2 separate regions of the Homo sapiens genome follow, and region 2 is linked to region 1. Evidence: fine-mapped expression QTL. A gene starts in region 1. The other region holds a variant in brackets. All regions are shown on one strand. Distances are between the middles of the regions.

Region 1 (5,000 bases):
ACGAAGGAAGCCAAAGAAAGGATTCCTGCATTGGTAGTTCTCTTAGGCTGAGTCAGATTTTAGGAAAGGTAGATTGGGAATAGATAATGAAAGATCTGAAAAGCCAGGTTAATGGCAATGAACTTTATCCTGTACTCCAGTGGTTCTCAACTGGACTGGGTGTAGATTTTGGCCTCCAAGGGACACTTCAAAACATCTGAAGTTTTAACTGTCACAACTTGGGAGGGAACGCTGCTAAATATACCATCATATACGGGACAGCACATCCTCAAGTAATTATTGGTCCCAAGTATAAATAGTGTAAAGCTGGGGAAACTATGCAGTAATCTATTTGGCGGTGGAAATGTGAGGGTTGGAGATGTAGGGAGAGAACTTTTTTTTTTTGAGGCAAGGTCTGGGCTCTATGGCCCAGGCTGGAGTGCAATGACTCGATCTCGGCTAACTGCAACGTCTGCCTCCCGGGCTCAAGCGATCCTCCCACCTCAGCCTTCCTAGTAGCTGGGACTACAGGCATGCACCACCACGGCCGGCTAATTTTTTTGTTTTGTAGAGATGGGGTTTTGCCATGTTGCCCAGTCTGGTCTCTAACTCGTGAGCTCAAGCGATCCGCCTGCCTTGGCCACCTAAAGTGCTGGGATTACAGAAGCTAGTCACTGTGTCCGGCGGATAACTTGTTTTTTAAAAGAGAGTTACACTTTAGGGTTGATATGGAGCAGATGAATAGGAAAGAATGTACTCTCCAAATGTTCAGTTCTTTTCTTACCTCACATTCTTAAGTTTTCTGAGAGAAGCAAACACATGCTTTAATACAAAACTCATTTCACACCTTCTATATTCACCATTACCCTTCCTATTTCCTGTTTTGGGTAGAATTACTTAAGTAGAAACGGCAGAGACTTGGTTTTCTTTAAGGTTCTTTGTTGCAGTTAATGAGAAGAGGCAACCAACCTTAGAGAAATCCATACAATGCCAGGCCTGGTGACTCGCCTGTAATCCTGACACTTTGGAAGGCCGAGGTGGGCGAACAGCTTGAGCTCACAAGTTCAAGACCAGCCTGGGCAACATGGTGAAACCCCAAAACCCTCTCTACTAAAAATTCAAAAATTAGCCGGACCTGGTGGCAGGCGCCTGTAATCCCAGCACTTTGGGAGGCCCAGGCAGGCGGATCACTTGAGGCCAGCGGTTCAAGACCAGCCTGACCAACATGGTGAAACCTCGTCTCTACTAAAAATATAAAAATTAGCTGGGTGTGGTGGCAGGTGCCTGTAATCCCAGCTACTCCGGAGGCTGAGGCAGGAGAAGCTCCTGAACCCAGGAAGCGGAGGCTCAGTGAGGCGAGACCGCGCCACTGCACTCCAGCGTGGGCGACGAGCGATTATGTCTCCAAAAAACAAAACAAAGTGCAGGTTTGGGAGGTAGTCTAATCCCCCACCCCTTTAGAGCAAGGCAATTTCCTCAGGGCCGCAGTTTACCAAAGGTGGTACACTCTGGGGTGCTATCCTTTCCATTTTTTACAATCCCTGACCCTGGTATTCCCTGATGCCTTATCCTGTCTTCTAAACCAGTGCCACTGGTTTCGTCCCCAGTTCACCCTTTCATCGCTAGCTCACATGCCCTTTGTGGTCCTTCTTTCCCCAAACCTCTTCAGGTCAAGTCCTTAGAGGACCTTCTCCCTGACCAGCTCCCTTGGTTCTGGTGCTACAGCTGGACTCCTCACGCTCTTTCTTCAAGCATCATCCATTGGGAACGTGGTGTACTTTAGAAAACACGGACCCGGCCTAAGGCTTCTGTCTCCGAGGGGCCAGGGCCACGGCTTCCAAGGCAAACCAGCCCTGGCACCACCTTCTCACCTCCATCCCAAACCCTCCTCCTCAGTTCAAGGCCCTAAAGCCTCAGACTTGTGGAGGCCCGCCCCAAATTATGTAAAGAATATATAAATGCCCCCGACCTTAGGTACAATTTATAGCTAGATGTGTTACGTTGCGGCTGACAGCTTACATTACATTTTGGTAGACTAATTAATTTCGATTTACAACTGGTTTTCCCTTTTGGGGGGTCAAGACGCTATTTCTGGCCTCAAAGAGTTTCGTGGGCTGGTAGTGGCGCTTCCAGGGTCTAGAGGAAAAGGCGGGCCCGCGTCAGACCTCCCGCCGCGGCCCTTCCACGCCTCCCGCCGCGCGTCTCTTCACCACCCCTCCACTGTTGCTCCCTTCCCACCAACATCCCCGTCCTTCTGCCTTGCCCGGCCAGGCCCCCATACCCTCTGGTGCCAGCCTGCCTACCCCGCTACCCGCTCACCTGGGACTCCCGTTAGCTCTGGGCGCCGGACCTTCCGGGCTCGAAACCTCCCTTGCGCCCCGCCCCACGCAGAGCGTCCCGACCCGCAGCTCCGCCTGCTCGCCGCGGCCTCCGTGGAGTCCGGGGTCGCGCGCGCTCCAACTCTGAAATCTTCGCGCCACGCCTCCCACAAGCCCCGTCCCACCCTCAGCCCCGCCCCTTCGCCGCGGCCACCGCTGAGTTTCCGGGCGCGCGCTCCTACCCCGAGCTCTTTGCGCCACGACTCCCACAGGCCCCGCCCTGCCCTCAGCCCCGCCCCACCCCGCCACCGCGGCCTCCACCGAGTTCCCGGGCGCGCTCGCTCCACCGAGTTCCCGGGCGCGCTCGCTCCTACCCCGAGCTTTTCGCGCCACGCCTCCCAGAGGCCCCACCCCGCCTCAGCCCCGCCCCCTCGCGGCGGCCTCGGCCCCTCCTACCCCTAGCTCTTAGCGCCACGCCTCCCACAGGCCCCGCCCACAATCGGCCCCGCCCTCTCCGGCTCCCATTACTTCGCGGGCCAAGATGCGAAACCACTCCTGTGCGCCTTTCCCCAGGCCAGTCCCGGGGCGCGCGCTGCCTACCCTCCCCCAGCTCAGCTCTATCCCCGGGGCCCGCAGGACCCAGGGGACCCACCCTCCCGCGAGCACGCACGCGCAGGGCCCACCTCTGCGAGTTCCAAACCCTCGGCCCTCGGGTCGCCTGCCCTGGGCCTGGCCCCGCCTCCAGGTCCGGCCCCGCCTTCGTGCCGGGGCCCGCGCACGCGCGCCTCCCCGGCCCAGCCTTGCTCCCGCCCCCGCCGGTCCCGCGGTCCCACGGCGCCTGGTTGCCCCCAGCCCCCTCCCTCCTCCCACCTTCACTGTGTCCCACCCTTCCTAGCTTTGTGCCCGGGGTGCTGAGCCCTTCCCCGTCAGCCGGGCCGCGGGAGGAGGGAGCCGTCACCGAGGAGCTGCCGCTCGCTGCCCCGGGCAGGGGCACAGGTAGGTGGCGGCCGCGGGCCGGGCCGCTCGCGGGGCCCCGGGTTGCGTGTGGGAGCGGGGGCGGGGTGTTAGGGAGGGGCGGGGTGGGGGAGGGGACGCCCCAGAGGGACGGCGGGGCGCGGGTTGAGGGGAGGATGAGGTATACTGGTGGGGGCGATGGGTTTAAGGGTGGCGTAGGGGTGCGGGGGCAGGCTATGGGGACGTGTGAGAATTGGGGTTCGGGGCCTGGGTGGGACAGGGAGCAGGATTAGCCTGGGTGGACTCGGGGAGAGGCATGCTTGGGGAGAGAGCGGGAAGAAGGAAGGGGGAAGGGAATGGGATTTTAGGGGTTCAAGGAGGAAACGAGATAGGATAGGAATAGAGAGGGTGGGGTCTTGGGGGCAGGGAAGAAAAGTTGGGGGTGTGGAATGCCAAGTTGGGGATAGTGAGGCGTGAAGGAAGAGGGTCTTGAAGATTGAGAACAGAAGGCAAGGAAAGGGATGGAGAGATTGGGGTCCTAGGAGAGGGAAGCCCCTAGAGTGGGAAGAAGGGAAGAATAGATGGTGAAGGAGAGGAGTGGGGGGTGGAGGAGTGTGGGGAAGGAAGGGGAGGCAGGTGAAGGTTGGGAGATCGGAGGTTGGAAGGTTGGGTCTGTGGGACAGCAAGCCACCTTTCACCAGGGGCTCGGAAGGGCTGGAAGGGTCTGAAGGTTGAAAGGGGCAGGAGAGCTGGGGTGGGCGAAGGGAGTGGGGTTAGGATTTTTGGTGTGAGAAGCGCTAGAATTGGTAAGAGTGTCACGTTGTGGGAGAGACTGGCATGTTCTTGGAGGGAAGTAGGGAGCCTGAAAGGGTATGGGTGAGAAGGCAGGTAGGAAAGTGCATATTATAGGAAAAAAGTAGTGAGGAAAGTTGAAAATTGAAGAATGGGGACACACAGAACAATGAAGGTGGATTGTTGGTTATTGGTGGTTTAGAACTACCCATAGTTTAGTTTCTGTTTAGGTTTTTATGTTAGAAATTTTCCCAAGAATACTGCATTTTCAGATAAACCAAAAGTGTCTGCAGCCTTGGGATGAAGGCCATGGGTTGGCAGATGTTCTCCTGGTATATGGATGTAGCTCATTTTGGGCCTGGCTGAGGGAAGAAGGGAGGCCTCGTTGTAAATGTCCTGGCTGTGTTCCCACTAGCTCTTTCCCCAGATGTGCACTGTTTTTTTGTTTGCTTTTGTTTTTTAATCTTATCCCCACCCCCTCCCCCCAGGCTTCATCCAGTGAATACTAGAGGGATCGAACAGGTGGGTGAGATTAATTTTTCACATTTTTTTTATCCTTAAGGTTGATGTCATATTTTTAGTCTTGAGAAACAGCATCATGCCAAGGAAAGAGCTTGAGCTTTGGAGTAATGCGGCCCTGAGATTGAATTCTGGCTCTGCCACTTATTAGCTCTGTTCTAGAGTAAGTTATTTTATTTCCGTGGGTCTCTTTGTCTATTAAAAGGCAATACTGACCTCATAGGATCATTAAAGATTACATGAGATCATTTTATATAGTACCTAACACAGTGCTTGGCAACTGGTAGGTGCTTAATAAATGGTAGCCATCATCCAGTATCATTAAACATCATAGTTACTGCTACAACTTGTTATTCTTAGGGGATTTTTATCTTACTTTATCTACTGAAGTTAGATATTTTCTTCTTCTTCTCTTCAAATTAGCCGTAGATTCAGCTC
Region 2 (5,000 bases), 31 kb before region 1:
GGCTTTCCAATTAGATTCTCTTCAACTTAATGCATCAAACATTGAGCATTGATTCTTTTCTGGGTGCAGAGTTATGCAAAGATGGACGAGGAAGAGCTGTTGTCCTCCAGCAGCTTAATCTCACAGGGGACCAGACATACACTCCAATGACCATAACTCAAGGTGGAGTATATGTTAGAGTGAAGACTAAGTGCTCAGAGGGCACAGAGGAGACAGCAATCCTCTGAGCTGGGTGAATCCAACAATGCTTTTTGGAGCTGGTGGCATTTGAGCTGGTCTTCAAAGATGCCCAGTACTTCCATAATTTGGGATGGGAGCCTGGAGAAGATGGGAAGGGAGAAGGGCATTTCAAGTGAGGAGAACTACAAGGGCAAAGGTGGGAAAAGGGCTATGTGCAGGAGACTGCAAGAGGTTTGGGTTCAATTCCAATCCTTTTGTTTTACAGTTGCTAGCCATAGGCCAGTGTAGTTCAATGGTTCTCAAACTTGGGCATGCAACAAAATCACCTGGAGGGCTTGCTGCAACACAGATTCTTGGTTCTCATCTCCAGAGTTTACGATTCGACAGATCTGAGGTTGAGCTAGGGAATTTGCATTACTAACAAGTTCTCAGGTGAGGCTGATCCTGCTGTCCCAGGAACCACACTTTGAGAACCGCTGCTATAGTAGGTGTTGTTGGTGCTCTGCCCAGATGCCTTTTACCAAGCCATTGTACTCATGAGCCAGCTGCTGTGAGTGTTGGCTGCTAATGGCTCACAGATGCACTCTTTCCTGAGAATTTGCCCTCATGACAGGAGCTATCTTACCCAGAAATACCTGTGAAATTATGTCCTTCACCTGAGTGTGGCCCACAGCCAGTGACTGATGGATTTGAAATTCCAAAGCCTTTTCCCTTGCTGCAAGGTGGGGCAGTCTACTTCTCCGGTGCCAGTCATGCTTCAGAGCTCCCTATGGGATCAGACTGAGGCTAGACTTCAGCAGAAGCCATGTTTAATTTTTCCCTCTGCCTGATCCTGCTTCTCTCACTTCCTTAGAGGTTTCTCCTGAGAGCGCTCCCTCAATAAATCACTCTTCAAAGAATCCTTGTTGGAGGCTCTGCTTCTAGAGAACCTGACCCAGAGCAGTCCCCTTCTGGGTCTTTTCTGATTATGAGTCTTCATTAGTGGGGCTTGTTATCTGCTGAAACATAGTGTGGGATGAGGAGTCAGGTGGCGCAATCTGCAACTTTCATTGACATTCGCTGTCTTGAGTAGCCTATTATTAACTAAATTCCTTCCTTTGAGATGGGGCTCAGGGAAATCCCCTTCAGTTACACTCCCTTTACTTTGGATGCTTTTTCACCTTCTGCTATGGATTGAATTGTGCCCCTCTAACCCCCAAAATGCATATGTTGAAGATTTAACCTCCTTTTATTTGGAGACAGGGCCTATATAGAGGTAATGAAAATCACATGAAGTCATAAGGGTGTGGCCTTGATAAGACAGGAATAGTGTCCCTTAAGAGACACCAGAGTGCACTCTCTGCACACACACACAAAGAGCTCGTGTGAGCACACAGCAAGGTGGCAGCTACCTACAACGCAGGAAGAAAGGGTTCACCAGAAACTATGCCGGCACCCTGATCTCAGACTTCCAGCCTCCAGAGTGGTGAGAAAATAAATGTCTGTTGTTTCAGCTACCCAGTTTATGGTATTTTGTTACAGCAGCTGGAGCTAAGACAACTTCCTTCATCATGCTTTACCTCCAGCAGTCTCCTCTGGTGTATCCTGCCTGATTCTCTCCAGCTCCATCTTCCCTGCCATTCTGTTATTAACCTCGAGGCTCTCTGGAGACATTCTCCATCCTCCTGAGCCACCTGCAGCCCTCTTCAATCTAATCAAGGGACTGTTGGATAAGCCTTTCATAACCATGACACGTTTAATAAAGTCTCTAGCTTTGAGAGAACATATGCCAGTTCTCAGCTTCTTCCTTCACCAAAATCCTCATTTCACAGTACTTAGTGAGTGGGCGTCCCATTTTGATGTTAGGGATTATAGCTGCTTCCTTGAAGATAAAATGTTTTTCTTTTTATAATTCTTTTTGTTGTGAATGTTTTGAGAAAGGGGATGGAGTAAAAATCGCTTTACCCCATCATCTTTAACCAGAAGTATCCATTTTTATATTTATAAACATATATATGTATATATATAAAATTCATATCCCATTATAAAATGATGTTTGTATATATCATACTTTCTAATATATGGCTGCGTAGTAGTTTCCAGTTTTTCTGTCTTATAAACATCATTGCTATAAACTTTGTCCACTTATCTTTGTATATTCCTTTATCTGATTATTAGGCTATATTTCTAGAAATGGAATTTCTGTGTCAAAGACTACATGCATGTTTAAAACTTTGATGTACACTGCCACACACTATCTCCCAGAAGGCTATCAGGGTCAAGTTACAAAGGGTTGCTGGAACATCACCTAGAAGGTGAAGCCCACAAAGGATGCCTCCCCCAGCCTGACCCCTGCAGAGAGGCATTCCTGAGAGAGGGCTCAACAAATGCAATATGCTATAAAAAAAAATCTGTATAAATGAGTGATAAACACAATTTTCATTTCTGTAATATTTCTTTGCCTAGACTTGGTACATGGTAAAAAGGTCATTAAATTTTTACTTTTTTATCCATCGCTTTAAATAAGTATTTACTGGTTTAAACTTTATGCAAGGCGCTGTGATAGGCATTGGTCCACAGTAAGTGATCCAAAAATTCATATATTGTTGACTAGCTTTATTCAAAGCTCCTCAAAGATTCTACAGTATAAAGAGATATAGGCGTGCAAATAAATGAACGATGTTCACTTATTCAGTCAACAGATATTTCTTGAGAATATATGTGCCAGGCACTATTCTAAGCCCTGAGGATACAGTCATGAGCAGAAGCAAAAAAACCC[C/T]CTGCCTTGGGGAGCTTACATTCTAGTGAGAGAGATGATAAACATGATATACATGGTAAACAGAAAAAATACGTTAGACAGTTATAAGCAGGGCTGTCCCTATAAGGGTGAGAGAGCCCCGAGTAATTCAATTGGATTAAATCTCCTACTCAAGAGGATCACACCTGAATGCAGGTGGCACTGCCCTCATCTTTCAAAGGATACTTGGGCCATCATTAATATCATTAAAAGAAAAAAATTTAAGTGGAATTTTAATGATAGAAATGAAGAGTCAGGTATAAGAACTCCTAAATACAGAACACAGGGTGACTGCGTCAGGTCCCTAACCTAAGAAAAGAAGAAAAATAAAACAGGGAAGAAAGATTTAATGTGTTTGTCTTGCGAGGGTAAGGTGCAGGAACACTCTAATTTTAATAGGGAGGCCAGAGAAAGGCTTATTGAGAAGGAAATTTTGTGTAAGGACCTGATGTCAATGAGGAAGCCAGCTATACTGACACCAGTGGCAAGAGCACTACAGGCAGAGGAAACAGCAAACACAAAGGCCTCAATACATAGTACACACAGCACAGTGGCAGTCAGGAGTCCATGGGCAGGTGGAGAAAAGGCCACATGAAAGGGAAAGAGGATGCCAGTTGAGGACAAATGAGAGTTTAAAAAGGTGAGGGGCTGAGAGCAGTGGCTCACACCTATATTCCCAACACTTTGGGAGGCCAAGGTAGGAGGATCCTGTGAGCCTGGGAGCTCGAGACTAGCCTGGGCAACATGGTGAAACCACATTTCTATAAAAATACAAAAAATTAGCCAGGTGTGGTGGCATGTGTCTGTAGTCCCAGCTACCCAGGAGGCTGAGGTGGGAGGGTCACCTGAGCCTGGGAGGTCAAGGCTGCTGTGAGCTGTGTTTGTGCCACTGCGCTCCAGCCTGGGCAACAGACCTGCTCTCAAAAAAAAAAAAAAAAAGAGGTGATTGGGGTAGTTCAGCAGTGAAATACAAAACAAAGCAAAAAGGTAAAGCTACATATCATATCTATTGCCTGAAATGTGGAGTGGTTTAAGGTGATAATGAGAATGAGTTTTTTAAAGCCTAGAAAAATGAAGTTTAAAGCATGCTGTTTTCAAATACCGTATATGAAATGGGTGTTCTACAGTCATCAATTGTTTCCTGCATCCACAGAAGACAGAGAAAAAAGACTTAAAGATAACTCACCAGGCCTGTGCCAAAGAAATCAATCAGATAACCTCTGGAGATCCCTTTTAGCAATCTGTAAGCCTCAACACAGTGTTTCTTACACAAAGAGTTATTGCCATTTCAATTTAGAAACTTGGCAAAAAGAAAATGCTCAGCATTTCATTTTATTGAACATGAACACAATTGCTATAATTCACATTCCTTCTCAAAAACCTTAAATGGTTCCAGTGTTACAAGAAAATACCTGAAAGCCTGTGATCTAGCCGTAATGTTCAGTTTTAGTTTCACTTTTTGCTCTACTCAGACTTTTTTATTCATCTTTCCCCAAATTCATCATTATGAATGACTACTCACCTTCACATCTCTTATCTGGTATACCAAGGTGGCTTTTGAAATGCCTTTCCTACTCTTCTCCATTTAAAATTTGCTTTTCCGGGCCGGGCGCAGTGGCTCACACCTGTAATCCCAGCACTTTGGGAGGCTGAGGTGGGCAGATCACCTGAGGTCTGGAGTTCGAGACCAGCCTGGCCAACATGGCAAAACCCCATCTTTACTAAAAATGCAAAAAAATTAGCTGGGTGTGGTGGCAGGTGCCTGTAATCCCAGCTCCTAGGGAGGCTGAGGCAGGAGAATCGCTTGAACCCGGGAGACGGAGGTTGCAGTGAGCCAAGATAGCGCCATCCCACTCCGGCCTGGGGGATAAGAGCAAAACTACATCTCAAAAAAAAAGAAAAACTTGGCAAGACTCCATCTCAAAAAAAAAAAATAAATAAAATTAAAGCATATATAAGTAGAAATACTCCTACAATGAACCTCCATATATCTATCACCCAGATTCAATAATTTATTGCCACATTTGCTTCTTCAACTAACCCT

What was found. PIP is the estimated chance that this variant, and not a neighbour inherited with it, causes the effect. A credible set is the group of variants that fine-mapping cannot tell apart.
Region 2: its variant is the best candidate, but not a certain one, in a credible set for the expression of IFT25 in B cells (Fairfax 2012, PIP 0.74).

The regions. Positions count from the first base shown.
Region 1 is chr1:53,943,257-53,948,256 of GRCh38, forward strand. IFT25 (intraflagellar transport 25) reads right to left here and starts at 2,443. Exons shown (of 6, transcript NM_016126.4): 1 at 2,299-2,443. It overlaps LRRC42 (leucine rich repeat containing 42), which reads left to right and starts at 3,094. Exons shown (of 9, transcript NM_001256409.2): 1 at 3,094-3,293; 2 at 4,532-4,565. RefSeq lists a silencer at 2,340-3,409.
Region 2 is chr1:53,912,301-53,917,300 of GRCh38, forward strand. It overlaps a transcript of IFT25 not described here. Among named protein-coding and RNA genes, the nearest start is that of DIO1, 21 kb to the left of the region's middle. The variant C/T (reference allele first, on the strand shown) is at 2,939.